Linked DNA regions of Homo sapiens: all the other regions are linked to region 2. The links come from fine-mapping of genetic effects on gene expression. A gene starts in region 2. Each other region holds a variant in brackets. All regions are shown on one strand. Distances are between the middles of the regions.

Evidence for each region.
Region 1: its variant is fine-mapped to the expression of ANPEP in whole blood (TOPMed, PIP above 0.99).
Region 3: its variant is fine-mapped to the expression of ANPEP in whole blood (INTERVAL, PIP above 0.99).

The regions. Positions count from the first base shown.
Region 1 is chr15:89,839,244-89,847,422 of GRCh38, forward strand. All of the region lies in intron 8 of ARPIN-AP3S2 (ARPIN-AP3S2 readthrough), which reads right to left. The region is part of intron 4 of AP3S2 (adaptor related protein complex 3 subunit sigma 2); the gene reads right to left. LOC124903552 (a long non-coding RNA gene) reads left to right here. Exons shown (of 2, transcript XR_007064754.1): 2 at 1-101. Among named protein-coding and RNA genes, the nearest start is that of MIR5094, 7.4 kb to the right of the region's middle. The variant A/C (reference allele first, on the strand shown) is at 4,818.
Region 2 is chr15:89,811,335-89,819,513 of GRCh38, forward strand. It overlaps ANPEP (alanyl aminopeptidase, membrane), which reads right to left and starts at 3,518. Exons shown (of 21, transcript NM_001150.3): 1 at 3,438-3,518. RefSeq lists an enhancer at 3,087-3,586, promoters at 3,454-4,608, 3,454-3,942 and cis regulatory regions at 3,557-3,562, 3,814-3,942, 3,850-3,853, 3,852-3,881, 3,899-3,901.
Region 3 is chr15:89,873,178-89,881,356 of GRCh38, forward strand. The region is part of intron 7 of ARPIN-AP3S2 (ARPIN-AP3S2 readthrough); the gene reads right to left. The region is part of intron 3 of AP3S2 (adaptor related protein complex 3 subunit sigma 2); the gene reads right to left. It also overlaps the pseudogene LOC100631255. Among named protein-coding and RNA genes, the nearest start is that of MIR5009, 6.8 kb to the right of the region's middle. The variant T/C (reference allele first, on the strand shown) is at 3,420.

The sequences.
Region 1 (8,179 bases), 28 kb after region 2:
CTGAAGTTCTCTGGCATTGGCTCCCTGTATTTTGCCCTCAGTAAGTGCAGGGAACTTCTGATCTTGAGGACAGAGTATAATAAATCAAATGTATTCCCTTGCGTGTGTGCCCACATTGAGCTTTATTAACCACTGTTCTGTCTACACACACGCACACACACACTCTCACGAGGTGTTCTTACATTTTATACAATATGAATTATTCATTAGCTATATGCAAATGAAGATTTAATGGTAAAAGTCTCATATTTAGATAATTTACAAAATGTTAAACAAGACTGGTTTTAAAATTATTCCCTGGGGGAATTCCACTGTTTATACTTCCCCATCAAGAAATAGGCCTCTGAAAACAGTATGGTGGTTCCTCAAAAAGATTAAAAACAGAATTACCATATGGCCCAGCAATTCCACTTTTGGATATACACTCAAAAGAACTGAAAGTAAAGACTTGAAGAGAATGTGTACACCCATGTTCATAGCAGTATTATTCACAACAGCCAAAAGGTGGAAGCAGCCCAAGTGTCCATGAACAGACGACTGGATCAACAAAATGTGCCATAGAAATACAACAGAATATTATTCAGCCTTAAAAAGGAAAAGAATTCTTTTTTTTTTTTTCATCTGAATTGAGATGCTGTAAAAGGGAAGGGAATTCTGAGACACAATGTAACACGGATGAACCTTGAAGATACTATAAGTGAAACAACCCACACACAAAAGGATGAGGACTGTGTGATTCCACTCCTGTGAGGTACCCAGAGTAGTCAAATTCAGAGACAGAAACTGGAACGGGGGCTGCCATGAGGCAGGGGGAAGAGGACAGTGGTGGCTATTGTTTAATGTGTACAGAGGTGCTGTTTTGCAAGATGAAGAGCTCTGGAGACGGATGGTGGTGGCGACTGCACAACAATGTGGATATACTTAATGCCACAGAACTGTAAGCTTAAAAATGGTGAAGACAGGAAACTATATGTTACATATTTTACCACAATTTAACAAAAAAGGAGAGAAATAGTCCTCTATACCTGCACTTTCAGTATTTATTCCTTTTATTTAGCCAATCCCTGTGTGGGTAGAAAGTAGTACTTGTTGAGTATCTATTATGAACCAAGTACTTTATGTAACTTACCTTAATTTTACAACATTCATCTAAGGTAGGTAATATAATCTTCACTTTATTATTATTATTACTATTATTATTTGAGGCTGAGTCTCACTCTGTCACCCAGGCTGGAGTACAGTGGTGTGAACTTGGCTCACTGCAACCTCCGCCTCCTGGGTTCAAGCGATTCTCCCAACTCAGCCTCCTGAGTAGCTGGGATTACAGGCACCCGCCACCATGCCCAGCTAATTTTTATATTTTTAGTAGAGTCGGGGTTTCCTCATGTTGGCCAGGCTGGTCTGGAACTCCTGACCTCAGATGATCCCCCTGCCTTGGCCTCCCAAAGTGCTGAGATTACAGGCGTGAGCCACCACGCCTGGCCTGACTTCACTTTATATATGAAGAAATTGATACATTTTATATATGAGGAAAAGGCAATAAAATGATCCCAATGTCATGTATATTAGCAGCAGAATGGTGCTGATTCCGGAGCTCATGTTCTACCCTTTATATCATACTTCCTCAGAATCCCAAACTATGTCTTCCACTCTATTCATCCCTGACCCCTAGTCCACATGAAATCATTTAAGACTTGTCTTTGGTGTGTCAATATCTTGTATTAATTCTTCCATGCTTTATCTCCAAGGCCTAGAACAACGCTCAGAGTAGGCATGCTAAATGAATGAAAGGCTTTCCATATATCTAAGTAGCATATTCCTTGGGCTTTAGGGACTTCGAAGATAGACAACAGTGTGGTGGTGGGGGCTTTCTGGAGAAGGTATAGTAAAAGGCCTAACACATGATGTCGTGGAGACTAGTGGCTGGTTAACAGAAAAAGTCAGTTAAAACTTCTTATTTAACACTGCATCATAAAGTCAGCATTTTCAAATGCTGTTCAAAATATGTTCCAAATGCAAAAAGAAGAAATAAAAATGCAAACTCCATTTTTGTTATAACTACAGGATATCCAAAATTCCAAACCCCCAAACAGGTGAAAAAGCTGTCAAAAGCAGGGAGCTCAGGCAGGGACTCCTTTGCTTCACAGAAGAAAAAGAAGAAAGGATGCTACAGGGAGAGGACAGGGAAGCTGGTGATCTCAGAAAGATCTGCAAAAATATGTACTTCCTGTGGGTAAAGGACACACTCCAGCACCAAATTAATTCCTTGTTTTTGGAAGGCAGGAACTTCCTTGGACCTGAAGTTGAGGCTAAATGAGAAATCACGCAAGCTACATTTGCCTCACAGAGGTGGTGTCTGTGGTAGTAGAGAAGACATCCTTTGCATTGTGGAGATGCTAAGAGACGCCTTGCCTATCTCGATTGGCTGGCTAGAGACTAAGGGTAAACGGACTCACCCAGAACCCTAAATCAAGGGAACAACTGTAGCTAGCCCAGAACAGAGTTTTGGTAGCTCCTCCAACAAACATCCTGCAAAACAGCTGGTCCCTGAAAAACTTGCCTATTTAAAGATAAGTATACAAAAAATCTAAACAGGATCTATATAAATATACAACGAGAAAAAATTAGGAAAGAAATAGGAAAACCAAATGGCAGACTAAGACCACAGACTGGAAAAGGGCCTCCATGGACTAGATACAATGGTAATAAAATATTTTACACAAAGAAAAAAAGAAAACTTGATAAAATAGTTGTCTCTATGAAATGAGAGCTCAAAGCAGAAATACAAGAACTTTAGCAGAGGTAGGGAGACGAGAAGAGAAGACAAGCTGCATACTGGCAGAACTGAGGAAAGAAGTGAAAGGAAAAATACTGTTACAGAAATGAAGGTGAAACTGGAAGAAGCAAAGGGAGAAGAAACTGCTAAAAACACACTAGGAACAAAAGGAGAGAAATGGAAAAAAAAAATGAAACCAAAAAGGGCTAAAAGAAATAGAGAAGAAACAGTTACAAAAGACAGCAAAGGAGATGTAATATTTGCATAAAAGAAAACTTTAACATGAATGGGAAAAATATGTAAAGATATGTTCATAAAGATAGAATCTAAGGTGTTTCTGAACTATAAGAGGATTGGGGTCTACACACTGAAAGGTCACACTGTATCCCAGGGGAAACAAATTCAGAATAGGCAGTACCAAGATACACCTTTAGGTAAGGTTTCTGGGTTCCTGCAACCAGGCAAAAAGATCAAATCACTTAAAAGAGAAACAAAATAATGAAAATTTCCACATTAATATTTAATGCTAACAGAAAATGGAACAACACCTACAAAATTCTCAAGGACAGAAAGTGTGACTCAAGGACTTTATTTATTTTTATTTTTATTTTTGAGACGGAGTCTCGCTCTGTTGCCAGGCTGGAGTGCAGTGGCGCGATCTCGGCTCAGTGCAACCTCCACCTCCTGGGTTCAAGCGATTCTCCTGCCTCAGCCTCCCAAGTAGCTGGGACTATAGGCATGCGCCACCATGCCCAGCTAATTTTTGTATTTTTAGTAGAGACGGGGTTTTACCATGTTGGCCAGGATGGTCTGCATCTCTTGACCTTGTGATCCGCCCACCTTGGCCTCCCAAAGTGCTGGGATTACAGGCGTAAGCCACTGTGCCCAGAAGACTCAAGGACTTTATACCCAGTCAACTGTCCAGCAAGGGTAACAGAATGGGGACCATTATTCCCAGGTATTTCTTTTTTTCTTTTTTTTTGAGACAGAGTTTCACTCTTGTTATCCAGACTGGAGTGCAATGGCGCGATCTCCGCTCACCACAACCTCTGCCTCCCCGGTTCAAGCGATTCTCTTGCTTCAGCCTCCTGAGTAGCTGGGATTACAGGCATGTGCCACCACGCCTGACTAATTTTGTATTTTTCGTAGAGATGGGGTTTCTCCATGTTGGTCAGGCTGGTCTCAAACTCCCAAACTCAGGTGATCCGTCCGCCTTGGCCTCCCAAAGTGCTGGGATTACAAGCATGAGCCACTACACCCAGCCAAGTATTTCTTAAGGAATCTACAAAAGGAAGCACTTGTGCCAACTAACAGGTGACTGGAAAAACTATGGCAGGGCCAGGCCTGGTGGCTCATGCCTGTAATCCCAGCACTTTGGGAGGCCAAGGTGGGTGGATCATTTGAGGTCAGGAGTTCAAGACCAGCCTGGCCAACATGGTGAAACCCCGTCTCTACTAAAAATACAAAAATTAGCCAGGTGTGGTGGCATGCACCTGTAATCCCAGCTACTCAGGAGGCTGAGGCAGAATTGCTTGAACCCGGGAGGTGGAGGCTGCAGTGAGCTGAGATCGCACCATTGTACTCCAGCCTGGGTGATGGAGCGAGACTCTATCTCAGAAAAAAACAAACAAACAAAAGTTAGCTGGGCAGAAGTGGCATGTGCCTGTAATTCTAGCTACTTGGGAGGCTGGGGCAGGAGAATCGCCTGAACCCAGGAGGAGGAGGTTACAGTGAGCCAAGATCGTGCCACTGCACTCCAGCCTGGGCAACAAGAGTGAAACTCCGTCTCAGAAACAAAAACAAAAACAAAAACAAAAAAACTACGGCAAAAACTTACGGTGAGCACTGAAAACTACTTAACTGTAGGTCTAAGACTAAAATAGGATTAGGGTAACAACAGATCGTCAATACTATATGCTTTGATGATGTATAAAACTCCAGCTAGCAAAAACTAGGAAGAGAAGAGGGGAAAAAGGAGGGAGGTAGAATACGAACACTGATTTCCTCACCCTCAGTAACTGAGAGTCCATGGATAGCATTT[A/C]AAACTAAAGTAATAAAGATATGGTTAATCTGACTTTTACTGTGACTTTTCCCGTGAATGTTCAAGCCTACCATCATTGTTATAAACAACAAAACTTTGAGAGCCACTGAACTTTTGGCTAGGGCCAAAAAACCCTCTTTCTTTCTTTCTCTTTCTTTCTTTCTTTCTTTCTTTCTTTCTTTCTTTCTTTCTTTCTTTCTTTCTTTCTTTCTCTCTCTCTCTCTTTCTTTCTTTACTTTTTTCTTTCCTTCCTTCCTTCTTTCCTTCCTTCCTTCTTTCTTTCTTTCTTTTTTTAGAGACAGGGTCTTGCTCTGTCACCCAGGCTGGAGTGCAGTGCCATGATAATAGCTCACTGCAGCCTTGAACTCCTGGGCTCCAGCAATCCTCCTGCCTCAGTCTCATGAGTAGCTGGGCCTATAGGCATGTGCCACCATGCCCAGCTTTTTTTCTTTTTTTTTTTAATTTCTAAGTAGAGATGAGGTCTTGCTATATTGCTCAGGCTGGTCTTGAACTCCTGAGCTCAAGGGATCCTCCCGCCTCAGCCTTCCAAAGCATTGGGATTACAGGTGTGAGCCAATGTGCCCAACCTAGAAGGATCTCTTCTGCTGATTAGAGTTTTTTGCCATTATTGCAAAAAACTCACCCAGAATGCATCATCTACAATTTCCAGTTTCTTAAAGTTAGAACTCAAACTGCTGTGAAACAGTAAGTACAGAATCCTAGATTTTTAAGATCCTTCCACCTCTACTCTTCCATAGTTATCTTGCCCAAACCTAATTCAGCTTCATTTCCTTTTTAAAGTACTTGTCCTTCCAAAGCATTCCTCTTACTTTTCACAGAGTAATTTTCTTTTCTTTTTTTTTTTGGAAACAGTCTCACTCTGTTGCCCAGCTGGAGTGCAGTGGCACGATCTCGGCTCACTGCAGCCTCTGTCTCCCAGGCTCAAGCGATTCTCTTGCCTCAGCCTCCTGAGTAGCTGGGACTACAGGCGCCCGCCACCACGCCCAGCTTATTTTTTGTATTTTTAGTAGAGACGAGGTTTTACCATGTTGCCCAGGCTGGTCTTGAACTCCTGAGCTCAGGCAATCTGCCTACCCCGGCCTCCCAAAGTCCTAGGATTACAGGCGTGAGCCACCATGCACAGCCAGAATAATTTTCTTTTCTCCCTCATAATTTAATCTGTATATTATTTAATCAAATTACATAATTACAGTACCAGTTTACTGGCATAAAGAGATCTGGAAACATCACAACTGACCTTTGGTAAGCAAAATGACTCAAGTGTAAGTGAGCAATGGATGAGCGAACAGCTGCCCGTGTTAGTCCTGCTAGTCAGTTCAGACCTTGTCCACTGAATATGAAGTTGACCATGAAAGATGGCTAACATTTCTCTGATTGGAGATAGATGGGACTTAAGAAAGTTGGAGGCTGCCAAGCATGGGTGTGGGAGCAAGCAGTCAAGAATCAACACTGAACTCATGTACCTAAAGAACTGGAGATAGAGTCAGGGCACAAAGAAGGGTTCTGTTAAACAACAGAAGTTGGCTGATGCGCTGACCTTGAGGATGCCTGCAGAAATCTAAGTAAATACCTGAGAGAACACTGACAGATAAAGTCACAAACCAACACAGGGAGGCTGGTAGGGAAAGAAAATCTGAGACGTGAGTCATGTAAATGGTATTCAAAACCACAGGAACAGAAAGAAAGAGGCTAAGTCTTCGAGAGGCCTAAACTCAGCTTCACACAGTGTGCATTGAACAAATATGAATTATGAAGTAATAATAATTCAACCTTCTACTCAGCAAGCATGGGAAATAATGACACTAGCAAAATTCACTCAGAAGTGTTTATTAACAGAGTTTAAACAAAAGTGCTACTGATTTTTCAGTACTTGGCAAATCCAATGGTAATTCAACCTAAAAATAATTACAACCAGGATGAGTTTCATCTGACATAAAGATTAGGATAACCCCAATAAACCAACAGGATATCTTGATATAAGGGGAAGGCAATAGAGAAAATGCTTCGGGTGATAAATCTGAAATCTTAAAAGGTAAAATGAGGCATAGATACTGATGTTTTCCAAGATCAAGATACATAAATTTATGACAACATTTTAGTGAGTGAAAGTCGGTGTTTTTAGCTCTGTCCTATTTAAATTTTTCTCTTGGAACCCCTGAAAATAGTCAAGAGTAGGAATGAGTACTGTAGTCAAAATGTCAATTCCTCTAAAGACAATCTAACCTGTTATCGAGTCTCTCCACTCTCCCCCAACACCTCTGGACATCTGTGTCTCTTTATTTTTTTTTTTTCTTGAGACATGGTCTCACTCTGTCGCCCAGGATGGAATACAGTGGCATGATCTCGGCTCATTGCAACCTCCACCTCCCAGATTCAAGCGATCCTACAGCCTTAACCTCCCCAGTAGCTGGGACTACAGGCCACATGCCACCACACCCGGCTAATTTTTTTTCTTTTTTTTTTGAGACGGAGTCTCGCTCTGTGGCCCAGGCTGGAGTGCAGTGGTGCGATCTCGGCTCACTGCAACATCCGCCTCCCGGGTTCAAGCAATTCTCCTGCCTCAGCCTCCCGAGTAGCTGGGACTACAGGCGTGTGCCACCACACCCAGCTAATTTTTTGTATTTTTAGTAGAGACAGGGTTTCACTGTGTTAGCCAGGATGGTCTCGATCTCCTGACCTTGTGATCCGCCTGCCTCGGCCTCCCAAAGTGCTGGGATTACAGGTATGAGCAACTGCGCCCAGCACACCTGGCTAATTTTTGTATTTTTTGGTAGAAATGGGGTCTCACCATGTTGGCCAGGCTGGTCTCAAACTCCTGATCTCAGGTGATCCGCCCACCTCAGCCTCCCAAAGTGCTGGGATTACAGGTGTGAGCCACCTCGCCTGGCCTCATTTTTTCTTTTCTAGGATGCTATCACCTCATCCTCCATCCCTTGAAGGTACTTGCTTCTATAACTGGACCTACTTACTGTCTGCAACACAAAGTTAACCTCTGCAGACAAAAGTAGATTAAGACCAGGCATAGCAGCTCATGCCTGTATTCCCAGCATTTTGGGAGGCCTAGGAAGGAGGATTGCTTGAGCCCAGGAGTTCAAGACCAGCCTGGGCAACATAGTGAGACCTCTGTCTCTCTAAAAAAAAAAAGTTTAAAAACTAGCTGGGCATAGTGGCACAAGCCTGTAGTTCCAGCTACTCGGTAGGCTGAGGTAAGAGGATCACTTGAGCCTGGAAGTCAAGACTTCAGTGATTGCACCACTGCACTCCAGCCTGGGAGACAGGGCGAGACCCTGTTACAAAAAAAAAAAAAAAAAAAAAAAAAAAAGTAGATTAAAATGAGTCTG
Region 2 (8,179 bases):
TCATGACTATTGGTTTAAAAATTGTTCCTGGGCCGGGCGTGTTGGCTCATGCTTGTAATCCCTGCACTTCGGGAGGCTGAGGCGGACGGATCACGAGGTCAGCAGATCGAGACCATCCTGGCTAACACGGTGAAACCTCATCTCTACTAAAAATACAAAAAATTAGCCGGGCGTGGTGGTGGGCGCCTGTAATCCCAACTACTCGGGAGGCTGAGGCAGGAGAATGGCATGAACCCGGGAGGCGGAGGTTGCAGTGGGCCGAAATCGTGCCACTGCACTCCAGCCTGGGCGACAGAGTGAGACTCCATCTCAAGTAAAAAAAAAAAAAAAAAGAAAAAAAGAAAAAATTGTTCCTCTAGGTAGCTCCTAAAAGGATCCTGTCCAGTTGCACCCGCTTTGGGAACTGCTGCTCCACCCTGTATGATGTTGGGGTTGCTGGCCCTGCGGGTTGTCTTTGGTGCAGGCTCTTTCTGCCAGTGAGCAAAATGCATGTGTTCCTTTCGCTGTGAATTTCTTGACGGGGTAGAAGCCGAGCTCTCAACCCACTTCAACTAAAGCAGCCTTTCTATGGGTTTATGTATTTCTTCCCTGCCTATGTTTTAGTCCAGAAAACGTAAGTTCTTCTAAACTAAAACCAAAGCCAAAACCAAAAAACATGAAGGTTGACAACGATCATGCCAGGGCATAACTAAGTCACAGTCACAGTGTGGAAGACACCCACACTTGTGGGTGGGGAGAGGCTCCTTGGTCTCAGATGTGAAGTGCAAGAGGCTTTCTACTCTAATATGAAGACTCCAGGAGCCTGGGAGGGGCTGTGGCCGGGAGAGCTGAGCACCCGTGGCCGGGTGAGCTGCTGTGTTATCCATGCTCCATCCCCGACCACTGGGTCCTTGGGTAGGCCCCACCCACTCCCACTCAGTGTCCCTGACTGTGAACTATGAGACTGGGAGCTCAGGGACAACCTGGGGCTCATTGTCTGCTCTGAGGGAGCAGTGAGCGAGAAGGGTAGGGACGAGGCTGGGCCTGGGCCAGGGCACACTCTGTCCCCGCAGGCCCCTGGCTTTCTCCCAGGCTTCTGAGGCCTCCGCCCATAGCTGCATCACCCCAGGGTGCTTCCTCTGGGAGCCTTGGACATTGCCCCTCCTGCAAGAACCTCAGAAGGCCCCAATGGGAAGTTGCCTCTCATCAGCCTCTTCAGCCCAATGCAGGGCACACAGGAGGAAGGAGCAGAGGCATTTGTGGGTGGGGGAAGTACACATAGGGTTTGTGTGGGGCCACAGATCCTGCCTGGCAACTCCTGTCTGCCAAATGGGGGGTGATTATCCTGGTGAGACACATGGTAGGTGAAACTGAGCACCTACTATGTGCCCTACCAGGATAATCACCCCCATTTGGCAAATGAGGACACTGAGGCACAGAAAGGTTAAGTGATTTGCCCAAGGCCACACAGCTAGTTAGCAGCAGGTTCCACAGCTTAACTACATATGCCTCCTAAAAATGTCCTCCCATACAGCCCCTCACATCTACTGTGGCCGTGCCAAGGGGAGTTGAAGACCACAGGAGAAGACACGCACCCATTTGGCCAGACCAGGGCTGGGAGCTGGGGGTAGTTCTCAGAAGTAGAACTTGTTAGCCAGGGAGTGCTGGGGGCTGCTTCCAGACACAGGCCTGTGGAGGACCCACATCTTGCCTCCAAGGTGTGACTGGGACCACTGTAGGGCCAGGAGTGACAGGCACCCGGGGTGAAGCCCGGGCTAGGGATAGATGGCTGCCAGCCTATGTGAATAAGGACACCCCAGGGCCTCGGTGTGCGGCTGACACACTGTCCATGCCATGCCTCCAGGGCTGTCCAGGAGCCCCAGCATAGGGTTCCAGATCTCCCACCAGAGCCAGCCCAGGAACTGGACCCAGTTCCAACACCTTGGCTCCTTCCGACATGGGGACCCCCATCTATGTCCTCAGAATGCCTAGCATACAATTCTTACAGCGATGGGGCTGGAGGCCTTAGCTTAAAGGCTGTAGGGGTGTAAGGAGCGCCAGCGTGTAACGAAGGTCTCATTCCCCAGAAGGCTCTGGGGGAAGCACAGGGCAGGCGGCTGGGCTGCCTCAAGACACTGGGCCGGTTTCCCCACCTGTGAAGCGGGAGCAGCGCTGTGGGTGGCCTCCTTGCACTCATAGTGTGGCCTTCGAGGCTAGGGCTCCACAGGAAGGTGGCTGAGAGTGGATGAGGGCCTCATGGGCCCAGCACACCCTCCCACAGGGAGAGGGGAGTCCACCCTCTTCCCTGCCCAGCTCCCCCATACCCACTGGGGCTAGCCAGCCTTCCTGTGGGACAGAGGCTGTCCCCACTTCCTCCTGGTCACCCCTACCCCACACGCCCACCTCCCCTCCACAAAACACATACCCTGAGGGGCCCTCTGGTCCAAGCCTCCCCTTTCACAGGTGAATTAACTGAGGCCCAGTAAGGCCAGGGCGTTTAGAGACTCAGGGATGAAGCCACATCAGACCTCAGGTCTGGCTGAGACCAGGGCTCTGACCACCCCCGAACACGGCCTGGTGGGTTGCAGTCCAGGGGCTGAGGTGGGGGAGGAGTGGGGATCCAGTCACAAAACCCCAGGACATAGCCCACCTGGGCCGTCCCTGCCCACCGCACTGCTGGGGGGGGGGGGTGCGTTCTGGAGTCATTTGGGGAAAGGATCCCATTGGCCCTGTTTAGGGGACCTTTTCCCAGACCAAGAGTGGATTGCAATGGGGCCCTGGATCTGTCTCAGTTGCTCACCAGGGAGGGCGTGGAATAGGCTCCACAACCCCCAAACCTCGGTCCCCATCCATGCCCCGGCATCTTGGCCGGGTTGTAGGAGCGAGGGAGAACGCGACTGTAACGCGGGCGTTGAGCACCTAGAGTTCCCCTTCCTCTTCACTGAGAGCTGCGGCGGAGGCTTTAGACCGAGGAGCGAGATCTAAGGTTAAAGAAAGGGCCTCTGAGCCCAGTGTTGGCCAGAGACCCCACAGGCGGGCCGGGTTCGCCCTTTGCCTTCGGCCGCGCCCCACCCACCAGGGACAGAGTGGCCGCGGCCGAGCCGGGTCCACCCGCCGCAGCTTAGCTCCGCTCCGCCGCCCTCCCCGTCCGTCCTCCCCAGGCTCCCGTCGCCCTCGCCCACCCTGGGGCCCCCTCCCCAGATGGGAGCCCCTCCGACCCCTGCGAGGCCCGCTGGGGACCCACTTGACCGCGAGATCGTAGTGGGAGCTCGGCCAAAAGAATTCTTCGCTTTCCCTGGCCCTCAGTTTACCCATCTGGGAAGAGGGGCGTCGCGGCCGCAGAAGTCCAGCTCCGCACGCGCCAAGCGCTGGGTCTGCAGCTCCCTCGGTTCCCGCGCACCCAACTGCCCCACGACCCCTACCCGCGCCCGCAGCCCCCGCCCTCCCGCCCCACTTGCCTGGGCCGCCGGGCGCTGGAACCTGGACCCTGGACCCTGGCGGGTTCCGAGCTGCGCCGCCGCCGTCCCTGCCCCTCCAGCACTGGACTCCTCCTTTCCCGTCTTTTTAAAGGGAAGTAACCGGACCCGACCACTACTCCACCCGATTCACCCCTAGCGGGCCGCCCGCCCGCAGCTCCGCCCGGGCTCCTCCCCCGTCCGCCCGCGGCTTCCCGGGAGCCCCCCAGGGCTCCTCCGCTCCTCCGACGGCCCGGCCTTCCCCCCGGGGCCTGGGATGCACCAGGGCTCCTGCTGCCCCCGACGGGGTCCCTGTCGCCGCAGCCCGCGGGACCCGCCGGCCACATCTGGACGGCATCTGCCGCGGGGGAGGGGCTCAGAGCCTCGCCCTGAGTGTCCCGCAGGGAGCCTTGTGCATCCGGGGCAGGAAGCCAGCGCATCCCGTGCAGACGGGTGGTGCAGATAACGGACCCGCCACAGCACGCAATTCAACTTTCTTGGTACCTGGGACTCGTAGTTCAGAAGGCGCAGTAGCACGACCTTGCGAAAAAGCACCGGAGTCGGGAACACGCGCTTCTCATTTTTTTCTTTTTCCTTTATTTGTTTTTGAGACAGAGTCTCGCTCTGTCGCTCACGCTGGAGTGCAGTGGCACTTTCTCCGCTCACTGCAACTTCCTCCTCCTGGGTTCAAGCGATTCTCCTGCCTCAGCCTCCCGAGTAGCTGGGACTACAGGTGCACGCCACCACGCCTGGTTAATTTTTGGAGTTTTAGTAGAGACAGGGTTTCACCATGTAAGGCTCGTCTCGAACTCCTGACCTCAAGTGATCCGCCCGCCTTGGCCTCCCAAAGTGCTGAGATTACAGGAGTGAGCCACCACACCTGGCCTGCGCCTCTCATCTTGATCCTGCTTGCAGAGGTTGTGCAGCCACCGGAGCCCCGCCAGGGTGGGGCTCCCTGTCTCTGAGCAGCTTTAATGGGCGGTACCAGATAATATTTGTATTGGTTCCCTGTGGCTGCCGTAACACAAACATAAAACAACACTAATTTACTATCTTACAAGTTTTGTAAAATCAGAAGTCCAAAATGGGTCTCGCTGGACTAAAAGCAAGGGGGTTGAGGGATACAGCTTTCTTGAGGCTGGAAGGGAACCTGTTTCTTTGGCTTTTCTGGCTTCTAGAAGCTGCCCACATTCCTTGGCTGGTGGCCCCATCCATCTTCAAAGCCAGCAGTGGCCCACCAGTCTCTCACAATCTGTCACTCTGACACCAACTGTTCTGCCTCTTGCTTCCACTGGTGAGCATCTTTGTGATTACATCGGGCCTACCCAGATAATCCAGGGTAATCTTTCTATTTTAAATCAATGGATTGGCAACTTGAATTCCACCTGCAACTGTAATTTCCCTTCGTGGGGTAGCATAACATATTCACAGATTCTGGGCATTAGAACCAGGGCATCTTTTGAGGAGGAGGATATGATTATGTCTACCACAATATTCAAGCTGACTTCCAGACTTTCAGATTTATAATCAAATTTAAGCTCTTCCTTATCCATGATTGGAATCCTTGGGACAGTTAAAGCCTTGCACTGCATGGTCCAAATTGATGGCTTTGTGACTGGCTGTGTTTTATTATTTTACTTGCACTTGCTCTTCTTTTGGAAACTTCATGGAGGACCAGGGTACCTCTAGGTAGCAGCCTTGCTTCTCCTTCCTAATTTGCTCTGTACTCTTAAAAACCAGGTCACAAACATATCGGAATATAGAATTGTGTGTAAAGTAAGAGTAAGTAGGCTGTGAGTGAGACCTCAGAGGCTATTTTGTTTTTTTTCTCTCTCCAGTCTCATGCATGTCTGACTCTCTCCACTATCATATCTGGCATAATCTCCTCCATGTCTGACAAGCCAAGGAAAACACTACATCAGGCCAGGAGAGAATCTTCCCCCCGGAGCTCTGCCTCTCCCACCCAGGCTCCGCGGAGATTTTAAGAGGAGTAAAGATCCTGCTGTGGCAGAAGTGCAACCCAGCTTTCTGGAGGGCAGTTTGGGGTTAGGAATGAAGATCACTTTCAGAAATTTAGCCTGAAGAGGCTGGGCGTGGTGGCTCATGCCTGTAAGGCAGGTGGATCACTTGAGGTCGGGAATTCAAGGCCAGCCTGGGCAACCTGGTGAAACTGTGTCTGTACTAAAACACAAAAATCAGCCAGGTGTGGTGGCGCATGCCTGTGGTCCCACCTACTTGGGAGGCTGAGGCACGAGAATCGCTTGAACCTGGGAGGCAGAGGCTTCAGTGAGCTGAGATCACATGACTGCACTCCAGCCTCGACTACAGAGCAAGACTGTCTCAAAAAAATAAATAAATTTAGCCTAAGGAAATAGAATATTTATATGCAAGGCTTTTCACTGCAGTATTACTTATAATACTGGAAAATCAGAAATAGCCTAAGTGGGCTGGGCGTGGTGGCTCATGCTTGTAATCCCAGCACTTTGGGAGGCCAAGGCAGGCAGATTACGAGGTCAGGAGTTCGAGACCAGCCTGGCCAATGCAGTGAAACCCTGTCTCTACTAAAAATACAAAAATTGGGTGGGCATGGTGGTGGGTGCCTGTAATCCCAGCTACTGGGGAGGTTGAGGCAGGAGAATCGCTTGAACCCGGGAGGTGGAGGTTGCAGTGAGCCGAGATTGCGCCACTACACTCCAGCCTGGGTAACAGAGAGAGACTCTGTCCACCCCCTGTGAAAAAAAAGATGAAGAGACAGTGCTTGCTCCTGCAGAAAGAAAATTCATGGGCTCATAAACATGTAAAAAGATGTTCAATAACTCACTTATTAAGAAAATGAAAATTATAACTACAAAAGATACTATTCTTCACTTACCAGATCAGCAAAGATAAAAAGCAGTTTGGTAGGTCAGGCACAGTGGCTCATGTCTGTAATTCCAGCACTTTGGGAGGCTGAGGCAGGAGAATCACTTAAAACCAGGTGTTCGAGACCAGCCTGGGCCACGTGGCAAAACCCTGTCTCTACCAAAAAAAAAAAATTAGCCAGGCGTGGTGGCACGTGCCTGTAGTCCCAGCTACTTGGAAGAATGAGGTGGGAGGATTGCTTGAGCCTGAAAAGTCAAGGCTGCAGTGAGCCATGATCGTGTCACTGCACTCCAGCCAGAGCGATAGAGTGAGTCCCTGTCTCAAAAAAAAAAAAAAAAGTTTGGTAACACACTATTCGCAAGGGTGGGAGGAAAACAGGCAACCCCCTGCATTGCTGGTTGGTGTGTAGACTGACTCGACCTCAAAAGAGAATATTTGGGCAGTATTTATCAAACATATAAACACATGTCCTGTTTGACTTGGCACTTCCAGAAATTTATCCTACAGATAATGCTCACACGTAAGTGAAAGGAATACACAAGGCTTTCCACTGCATCGCTGCAACATTGAGCCAAAACCACAATGACTTTTGCACCAATCTAATAGCTGGAGACAACCTAAATGTCCACCAATAGAGATGGGATAAATGAATGATTATTGTATGCCCTGCAATGGAATGCATATGGCTATCAAAAATAACTAGGATTCTCCTTACAGAACGCTCCCCAGGACAGGTTGTTTAGTAATAAAACCTAGACGCAGAGCCGTGTTCAAGTCGTTTATCAATTGTACTTAAATGGAAAAAGCACAGAGACACACAATTTGCTTTTATATGTGCACGCGCTGATAACACGAGTTGTTTCCCAGGAAGGAAACTGGAGCTGGAGAACAGGGTGGGAAACGCATTTTTCAGCATATCCTTTTGTTCTCTTGAATCTTGAACCATGTGAATACCGTGTCTAATCAAAATATAAATAAAATTAAAAGTGAAGACGAAAGACCAGAAGATTAACAGGCTTTATAATATAATTTTTTTTTTGAGATGGAATTTTGCTCTTGTTGCCCAGGCTGGAGTGCAATGGCGCAATCTTGGCTCACTGCAACCTCCGCCTCCTGGGTTCAAGCGATTCTCCTCCCTCAGCCTTCCGAGTAGCTGGAATTACAGGCGTGTGCTACCACACCCACCTAATTTTGTATTTTTAGTAGAGACAGGGTTTCTCCATGTTGGTCAGGCTGGTCTCAAACTCCCAACCTCAGGTGATCCACTTGCCTTGGCCTCCCAAAATGTTGGGATTACAGGCGTGAGCCACTGCGCCTGGCTATAATATAAAAATTTGAATGCCAGGTGAGGTGGCTCACATCTGTAATCCCAGCACTTTGGGAGGCCGAGGCAGGGGCATCGATTGAGGCCAAGGCAACATAGCAAGACCCCATCTCTATTTTAAAAACTTTTTTTAACTTGGCTGGGCGCAGTGGCTCATGCCTACAATCCCAGCACTTTGGGAGGCTGAGTCAGGTGGATCACCTGAGGTCAGGAGTCCCGGCCAACACGGTGAAAATCTGTCTCTACTAAAAATACAAAAATTAGCCGGGCATGGTGGCAGGCACCGGTTATCCCAGCCACTCAGGAGGCTGAGGCAGGAGAATCACTTGATCCTAGGAGACAGAGATTACAGTGAGCTGAGATCGCACCATTGCACTCTAGCCTGGGCGACAAGAGCAGAACTCTTTCTCAAAAAAAAAATAAATAAAAATTATAAACTTATATTTGTGGATGAAATGATTTGATGTCTCAGGTTTGCTTTGACCTAATCCAGAAGGGGTGGAGAAGTCAGGAATGCTCAATACAGCATGATTTAAAATAGGGGAAAATCAGAAACAAT
Region 3 (8,179 bases), 62 kb after region 2:
TCTGGGAAATTTTATCGAATTATTTTGTTGAGAATTCCCTCCTTTCCACATTCCTAATCAATCTTTTTGGAGCTGCTTATATTCAAGTATTGGACCTCTGTCTGTCTTCTTTTTTTTTTTTTTTTGAGACAGACTCTCGCTCTGTTGTCCACGCTGAAGTGCAGTGCCACGATCTTGGCTCACTGCAGCCTCTGCCTCCTGGGTTCAAGCAATTCTCCTGCCTCAGCCTCCTGAGTAGCTGGGATTACAGGCATGCACCACCACGCCTGGCTAATTTTTGTATTTTTAGTAGAGACGAGGTTTCACCATGTTGGCCAGGCTGATATCCAATTCCTGACCTTAAGTGATCCCCCTGTCTTGGCCTACCAAAGTGCTGGGGTTACAGACGTGAGCCACTGTGCCCGGCCTCTGTCTTATTTTCTCATCTTTTCTCTCCCATTTTCCATCTCTGCCCATTCTGAGACAATTGATTAACTTGATTTTCTAATACTTCAGTTGAAGTGGGTTTTTGTTTGTTTCCATTTCCTCTCATTTTTTATTTCTAAGAGACCATTTTGTTCATTTTGTGTGAGCAACAAGGCTGTGAGTGTTTTTGTTTAGCACCCATTTAGCAATAAGACATAAATGGGTCTTATTTTATTTCTAATTAATAAATGGGTCTTATTATTATTTAAAATAAATGTCTTATTTCTCTGTGGCTTTTTTTTTTTTTTTTTTTTTTGAGACAAGGTCTCACTCTGTCACCCAGGCTGGAGTGCTGTGGTGTGATCTCAGAACACTGCAGCCTCAGCCTCCCGGGTGCAGGTGATTCTCCTGCCTCAGCCTCCTGAGCAGCTGGGACTACAGGTATGTGCCACCATGCCTGGCTAAAATACTTCGTATTTTTAGTAGAGATAGGGTTTCACCATGTTGGCCAGGCTTTCTCTGTAGCTTAAGAATAGGGTTTTGGGTTTTTTTTTTTTTTAAACTGTTTTCCTTTCTTTATATGGTGTCCATTTTTAAGTTGCTTTTTATTGTTTGTTCATTTTATCTCCTTCTTCTATGTTAGAGGTTTTCCGCAGATGTCTGATAATCCTTTGTTTTTCATTTGTTACAAGAATAAAAGGCTGATTGAAAGCTCTACAATCATGGATATTTCTTGCCCACCTCCATGGTTATTTGCTTCCCTAGCGAAATCTGTCTCACGTGTCCATGTGAAGAGACCACCAAACAGGCTTTGTGTGAGAAACAAGGCTGTTTATTTCACCTGGGTGCAGTCTTTCTAGGTATCAAAATTCATTGTAAAGCTTTGTTAACTAAAATAGTATAATACTAAGGCTGGGTGAGGTGGCTCATGCCTATAATCCCAACACTTTGGGCAGCCAAGACAGGAAGATCCCTCGAGCCCAGGAGTTTGAGACCAGCCTGGGCAACATAGCAAAACATCGTCTCCACAAAAAAATAAAAATAAAAAAATTAGCCAGGCATAGTGGCACACACCTGTAGTCCCAGCTACTTGGAAGGCTGAGGTGGGAGGATTGCTTGAGCCCAGGAATTCAAGGTTGCAGTGAATTATCATTGCACCACTGCATTCCAGCCTGAGTGACATACCAAGACCTTGTCTCTAAATAAATTTTAAAAATAAAATAAAAGTATAATTCTAAGATGGGAATATAGATCAGTGGGGCAGAATATAAATTACTGAAACATACATGTTTATAAAATGCAATTTTAAAAATAAGAGTCGTATTTTAAGTTGGTGGGGAAAAGACAAGCTAACTGATAATGTTGGAACAGTTATCCTTTGGGGGAAAAATAAAGTTACATATTTCAATGCAGACATAAAAATATCTAACAGATATTAATGAGCTAAATGTAAAAAAATAAATTAAAAAAGCAACGGCAGATCCCCTGGGTGCCATCCAGGCCCCCGGAAGGAGCTATTCAGTCTGTGGCAAAGCTTTGAGGTGGCTGGTACTGCTAAAAGCGGCACGTGGAGGTGCCCCCTAGCGGCCTGAGCTCTGTTCTGCGGCAGCCAGAGCACATGCGAGGAGAGCCAGACCACAGTTTGCAGCAGCACCATCCCAAAAGGCTGTTTTCATTAAAGATGTTTCATGAAACTAAGACTGGGTTCTCAAGATAGGGTAGTTATCCAGGACAAGATGGACTAGCCCCAGAAAAAGACATCCCCAGATAGTGGGTGGAAAAAGAACTGTCAGATGCATCTGTTTTTCTTACTCAAAATATTATTCAAGATCACAATCAAGGTCAAGAGAAAGAAAACAAGAAAGAAAACGAAGGACGAAAACACAAAGCGCATGCTGATGGGCAAAGAGGCTGAACTGAAGACATTGCAGACTCAGGTAGGAAAATAATAAGCCTATTTCATGATGAGGCAAGAAGACAGGAATCCTACAACAAATCCTCTAAGAAATACACTTCTGAGGAGCATAATGACAAAGAACATTATTCTGATAAAGGAAGAGAGGGACTAAATTCATCTGAAAATGGGCTGGGCGCAGTGACTCACGTCTGTAGTCTCAGTACTTCGGAAGGCCAAGGTGGGCAAATTGCTTGGGCTCACAAGTTTGAGACCAGCTTGAGCAACATGGCAAAGCCCTGTCTCTATAAAAAACACAAAAGTTAGCCAGGCGTGGTGGTGTGTGCCTGTGATTCCAGCTACTCGGGAGGCTGTGGTGAGAAGCTTGAGCCGGGGAGACAGAGGTTACAGTGAGCTGTGATTGTGCCACTGCACTCCAGCCTGGGCAACAGAGTGACATGCTGTCTCAATAAATAAATACATTCATCTGAAAATGATGAGGACAGACACAAACACAAAGAAAGCCATCAAGAAGCAGAAGTCACTCAAGATACAGGTCTCGTGAAAGGCATCATCGTAGTAGAGGGAAAAGAAGTAGTCTCAATCCAGAAGCAGAGAGAAGAACGATCATGATCTAGAAGCAGGAAAAGAAAACCATGGGCTGGACATGGTGCTTCACACCTGTAATCCCAGCACTTTGGGAGGCCAAGTCAGGCAGATCACCTGAGATTCAGGAGTTTGAGACCAACCTGGCCAACATGGCAAAACCCTGTCTCTACTAAAAATGCAAAAATTAGCCAGGCGTGGTGATGCATGTCTGAGGTCCCAGCTACTTGGGAGGCTGAGGCAGGAGAATCACTTGAACCCAGGAGGTGGAGGTTTCAGTGAGCTGAGGTCACACCACTGCACTCCAGCCTGGCCAACAGAGTGAGACGCCGTCTCCAAAAAGGAAAGAAAAAAAAAAGAAAGAAAGAAAACCATGGATCAGATCTTGCTCCTGTTCAAGATAAAAACTACATCTGTGTTGCGTGTGAAAAATAAGTAAATAAATAAATATGACATGCATAGGAAAGAAGCAGAAGTAGTACAGGAAGCAGAAGACAAGAGAGAAAGAAGAGCA[T/C]TGAGAAACTAAGATTTAGCAGAAGTTTAAGCCAGATTTCCAGTTCATCTCTCTTCAGAGGCAGAGGCACAGCAAAGGATGCATAAGAAGCTTTAGCTGGGAGGATGGACTAGGCAAAGAAATTACAAGAACAGCAAGAAAAAGAAATAGTTGGGATGGGTGTTGGGAAAAAATTTTTTAAAAGAAAAAGAAATCATTGAAAAACAAAAACAAGAAATAGCTCCAGTTACTAGAGATTTTGTTCTCAATGTTGCTGCCCTGTTGGCATCAGGAATGCCAGTAACTCAGATAGCTATGGCAGCTCAAATGGGAGCCCTGCAAGCAACAGCTTTGGCAGAGACAGAACAGCTGTACCTAGGGATTATGACACAGCAGCTGGAAATCCAGTGAAATTTGCTGAACAAGAGGAAAAAAGTCAAGGCAAGAAAAACTGGGCAAACTCCCCGTCTGCTGAACTATGACTTTGGGAAACAAGGACCAAAATGTCATATATATGGAAATTAGTGGGTATTAAGAGTGAAGATGAAGCTAGATGTAGCTCACTTGATGAAGAAAGTTAGAAGACTTTGAAGCAATAGGAAGTACTGTATTTAGAAATTTAGATGCTCAGTATGAAAAGGCAAGATCACAGACCCACACATAAAGAGGAACGGGATTGGGTTTCACATCTTCAACGTGAGAAATGGATGCAGTTTGAAAAAGATCATACTTTTAAGGTTTGGGAACTTATAGCCTTCTTGTTCTGATGTCAGGTCCTTGTTCCCAAAGAGCTAGTGTTCCAGTTTGTAGGGTGTTGCACTGGCTTTTCTTCCTCTCTCTTTTTTTAAGCTGTGGTAAAATACACGTAACATAAAATTTACCATCATAGCCATTTTTTAAGTGTACAATTCAGTAGCATTCGATAACGTTCATAATGTGCAACCATCACCACCATCCATGTTCATATCTCTATTTTATAAACCTGAAACATGGCCGGGCGCGGTGGCTCATGCCTGTAATCCCAGCACTTTGGGAGGGCGAGGCAGGTGGATCACTTGAGGCCAGGAGTTTAAGACCAGCCTGAGCAACATGGTGAAAACCCCCAGCTACTCAGGTGGCTGAGGCACAAGAATTGCTTGAACCTGAGAGGTGGAGGTCACGGTGAACCAAGATCATGCCACTGTACTCCAGTCTGGGCAACAGAGTGAGACTCTGTCTCAAAATAAAAAAAATTAAAAAAAAGAAAAACACCAAAAAACTGAAATGCTATTCCCATTTGCATTGGCTTTAATTTATTGAAAAATAAGATTTTTTTCATAAATATCAGATCAGTGATATAGGTGTTGTAATCATGTTAGACTCGCTTTCACTAAACCTGACAGGACTATAGAAGGACAATATTTTTTGGTTCGTGAATTCTACTTTTTGAACATAAAGTGCTGTAGGTAGAATGAAATCTCATACATGCATTTTTTTGTGTCTGTTATCTTGTGTACTTTTGTACTTAACCTTGTACAGTTATTTTCATCTTTTAAAACATAAAATAAATGTTATGCAGATGTTCGTTAGAAGATCTTGCCACTGGTACATAATCCAGCACAAATAAGCTGGGTGGTGATGATAATAAAAATGGTTTTCTCCAAAGGAAAAAAAAAACAACAGCAAAACTGTAGGAGAATATTTTCATACCTTGGGAGCTATGAAGAAAACAACTTCCAGATGTACCTACATAAAGCAAAAAGACCAATGGAGTAGGAGAAAATATTTGCAATAAATATAACAAAAAAAGAATATGCATACAATTAGGAAAAAATCTAACTTACAAACAAACAAAACAAATGAGCCTTTTGAAAAGTGGACAAATATCGTAGACATTTCCAAATACCAAAGATACGCAGCCTCACCACTATTCAGGGAAACTCTAGTGAAAACAATGAATTTGCATTTTTTCACCCATCAGATTGGCAAACATTTGAAAATATTCTTATTTTTATCTTATTTTTGAGACAAGGTCTTGGTCTGTCATGCAGGCTGGAGTGCAGTGGTATAATCATAGCTCACTGCAGCCCTGATCTCCTGGGCTCAAGCAATCCTTCAACCTCAGCCTCCCAAGTAGCTGAGAATCACAGATGCATGCTACCACCCGAGGCTAATTTTTGTTGTTGTTGCTGTTTCTTTGTTTGTTTTGATACAGGGTCTCTCGCTCTGTCACCCAGGCTGGAGTGCAGTGGCATGATCTCGGCTCGCTGCAACCTCCGCCTCCCAGGTTCAAGTGATTCTCCCGCCTCAGCCTCCTGAGCAGCTGGGATTACAGACGTCCCGCACAATGGCCCAGCTAATTTTTGTACTTTTAGTAGAGACGAGGTTTCACCATGTTAGCCAGGCTGCTCCAACTCCTGACCTCAAGTGATCTGCCTGCCTCAGCCTCCCAAAGCGTTGGGATTACGGGCGTGGGCCGCCGCACCCAGCCAGGCTAATTTTTTCGTAGAGACAAAGTCTCACTATGCTGCCCAGGAAGGTCTCAAACTCCAGGGCTTAAGCGATCCTCCTGCTTTGGCCTCCCAAAGTATTGGTATTACAGGCGTGAGCCATTGCACCCAGTGTGAAAATATTCTTAATATTCAAAAGTCAGTGAGGTTATGGGTAAACAGATACATTCTTATTACATTCCATTAGTACAAGTATCAAAGGCAAAGCCTTTGTTTGGAGGCAATTCAGCAGTATCTATCCATTTAAAAAACACATGCCCTTATTAAAGCAGCAATTCCAATTGAGAAATCTGTACTATGGGAATTAACATATGTGCATATAGATGCACGTGGAAGGATGTCATTGCAGCATCCTTTACAATAGCAAGAAATTGGGAAAAACATAGATGCCCACAAGTAGCATGATGAATCAAAGATGATGATACATCCATATTATGGAAAATCACACACCGTCAAAAAAAACTGCATGTGGAAAAAGCTCCAGAACTTAAATGATGAAAAAGAAAGTTTTAGAACTATATATAGAGTATGATTACTTTTAATTTTTATTAATTTTTATTTTTTGGGGTCTCACTTTGTCACCCAGCCTGGAGTGCAGTGGCACAATCTCGGCTCTTTGCAACCTCCACCTCCTGGGTTCAAGTGATTTTCCTGCCTCAGCCTCCTCAGTAGCTGGGACTACAGGCACCTGTCACCACGCCTGGCTAATTTTTTTGCATTTTTAGTGGAGATACAGTTTCACCATGTTGGCCAGGCTGGTCTTGAACTCCTAACCTCAAAGTTAGGTTGCAGTGAGCTGAGATCACGCCACCGCACTCTGGGCGACAAGAGTGAGACTCCAAATTATATAACAAACTTACATAGTACTGGAGGCATTATAAATTAACATACTCTTCATTTTTTTTTTTTTTTTGAGATGGAGTCTCACTCTTGTTGCCCAGTGTGCAGTGGCATGATCTCAGATTTTAGAGTTATTAGAATGTGATAAAATGTGCATCTTAGGATATATAAAATATGATATTATAAGCCAGGATCTAGACTTCACTGGAGTCTGGGTGACGAAGTGAGACTCTGTCTCCAAAAAATAAAAAATAAATAAAAGAAACTTTAATGTAAGATTCAAAAGAAGAAATGAATAAACAAGAGGGAAATGCTAACTGTTAATTCACTTCTAATTATAATTATAATCCAACAGGGACTTTTTGGGACCTTTACAAATTATTCAAGAATACATATGGATGAACAAATAGTTATAAATATCAGAGAACGTACTGAAAAACAACTGCCACAAAGGGGAAATAACTAGTCTTACTAGGTATGTGAAACTATATTGAAACAATAAATAGCCAGGTGCAGTGGCTCACGCCTGTAATCCCAACACTTTGGGAGGCCGAGGTCAGGAGTTTGAGACCAGCCTGGTCAACATGGTGAAACCCCCGACTCTACTAAAAATACAAAAATTAGCCAGGTGCGGTGGTGGGCGCCTATAGTCCCACCTATTCAGGAGGCTGAAGCAGGAGAATCGCTTGAACCCAGGAGGCGGAGGTTGCAGTGAGCCGAGATTGCGCCACCGCACTCCAGCCTGGGCAACAGAGCAAGACTCCGTCTCAAAAAAAAAAAAAGAAACAATAAATAAAACAACATGAAAGTAATGCAGAAAGAAAAATGTAACTCAGTTAACTCAGTAGAATAAAATGAAGAAATGAAGGGTAAAAACTAAATCCAATTATGTATTAAATGTTTATTCAACCATTGTTAAAGGTGTGATGACTACATGCTAGGAACATACCATTGTTGACACCACAGTCAACAAGTCATGTTCTTATCCAGTTTATATTCTGGGTGTGGGAAGAACAAGGAGGCAAATGAAACAAGATATTTTCTATTGTCCTAAGTGCCCTGAAGGAAGTAAACAGGATGATGTGACAGGGGTTACTTCAGATAGAGTGCTAAGAAAGTTTGTCCAAGGATTAAAATTCGAGCTGAGACATAAATGGTAAAAGTCAGTCATTGAAAGAGCTGAAGTGAAGGAACCTAGATGAGAGTATTCCAGGGGACAGAACAAGTATAAAGGCCCAGACACAAAAATGTACTTGTGTTTGAAGAACAGCAAGAAGCCTAGAGCATAGTGAAGATGAGCGTGTATACGGTGAGGGGAGAGAGAGGCAAAGGAGCCGGACCATGTTGGGCCTTACAGGCTGTAATAGGGGGCTTGGGTTTCACTCTGAACTTAATACAGTATACAACATTAGAGTTTCTTCAACAAGGGGAGGTAAAAATGGATTATTTACA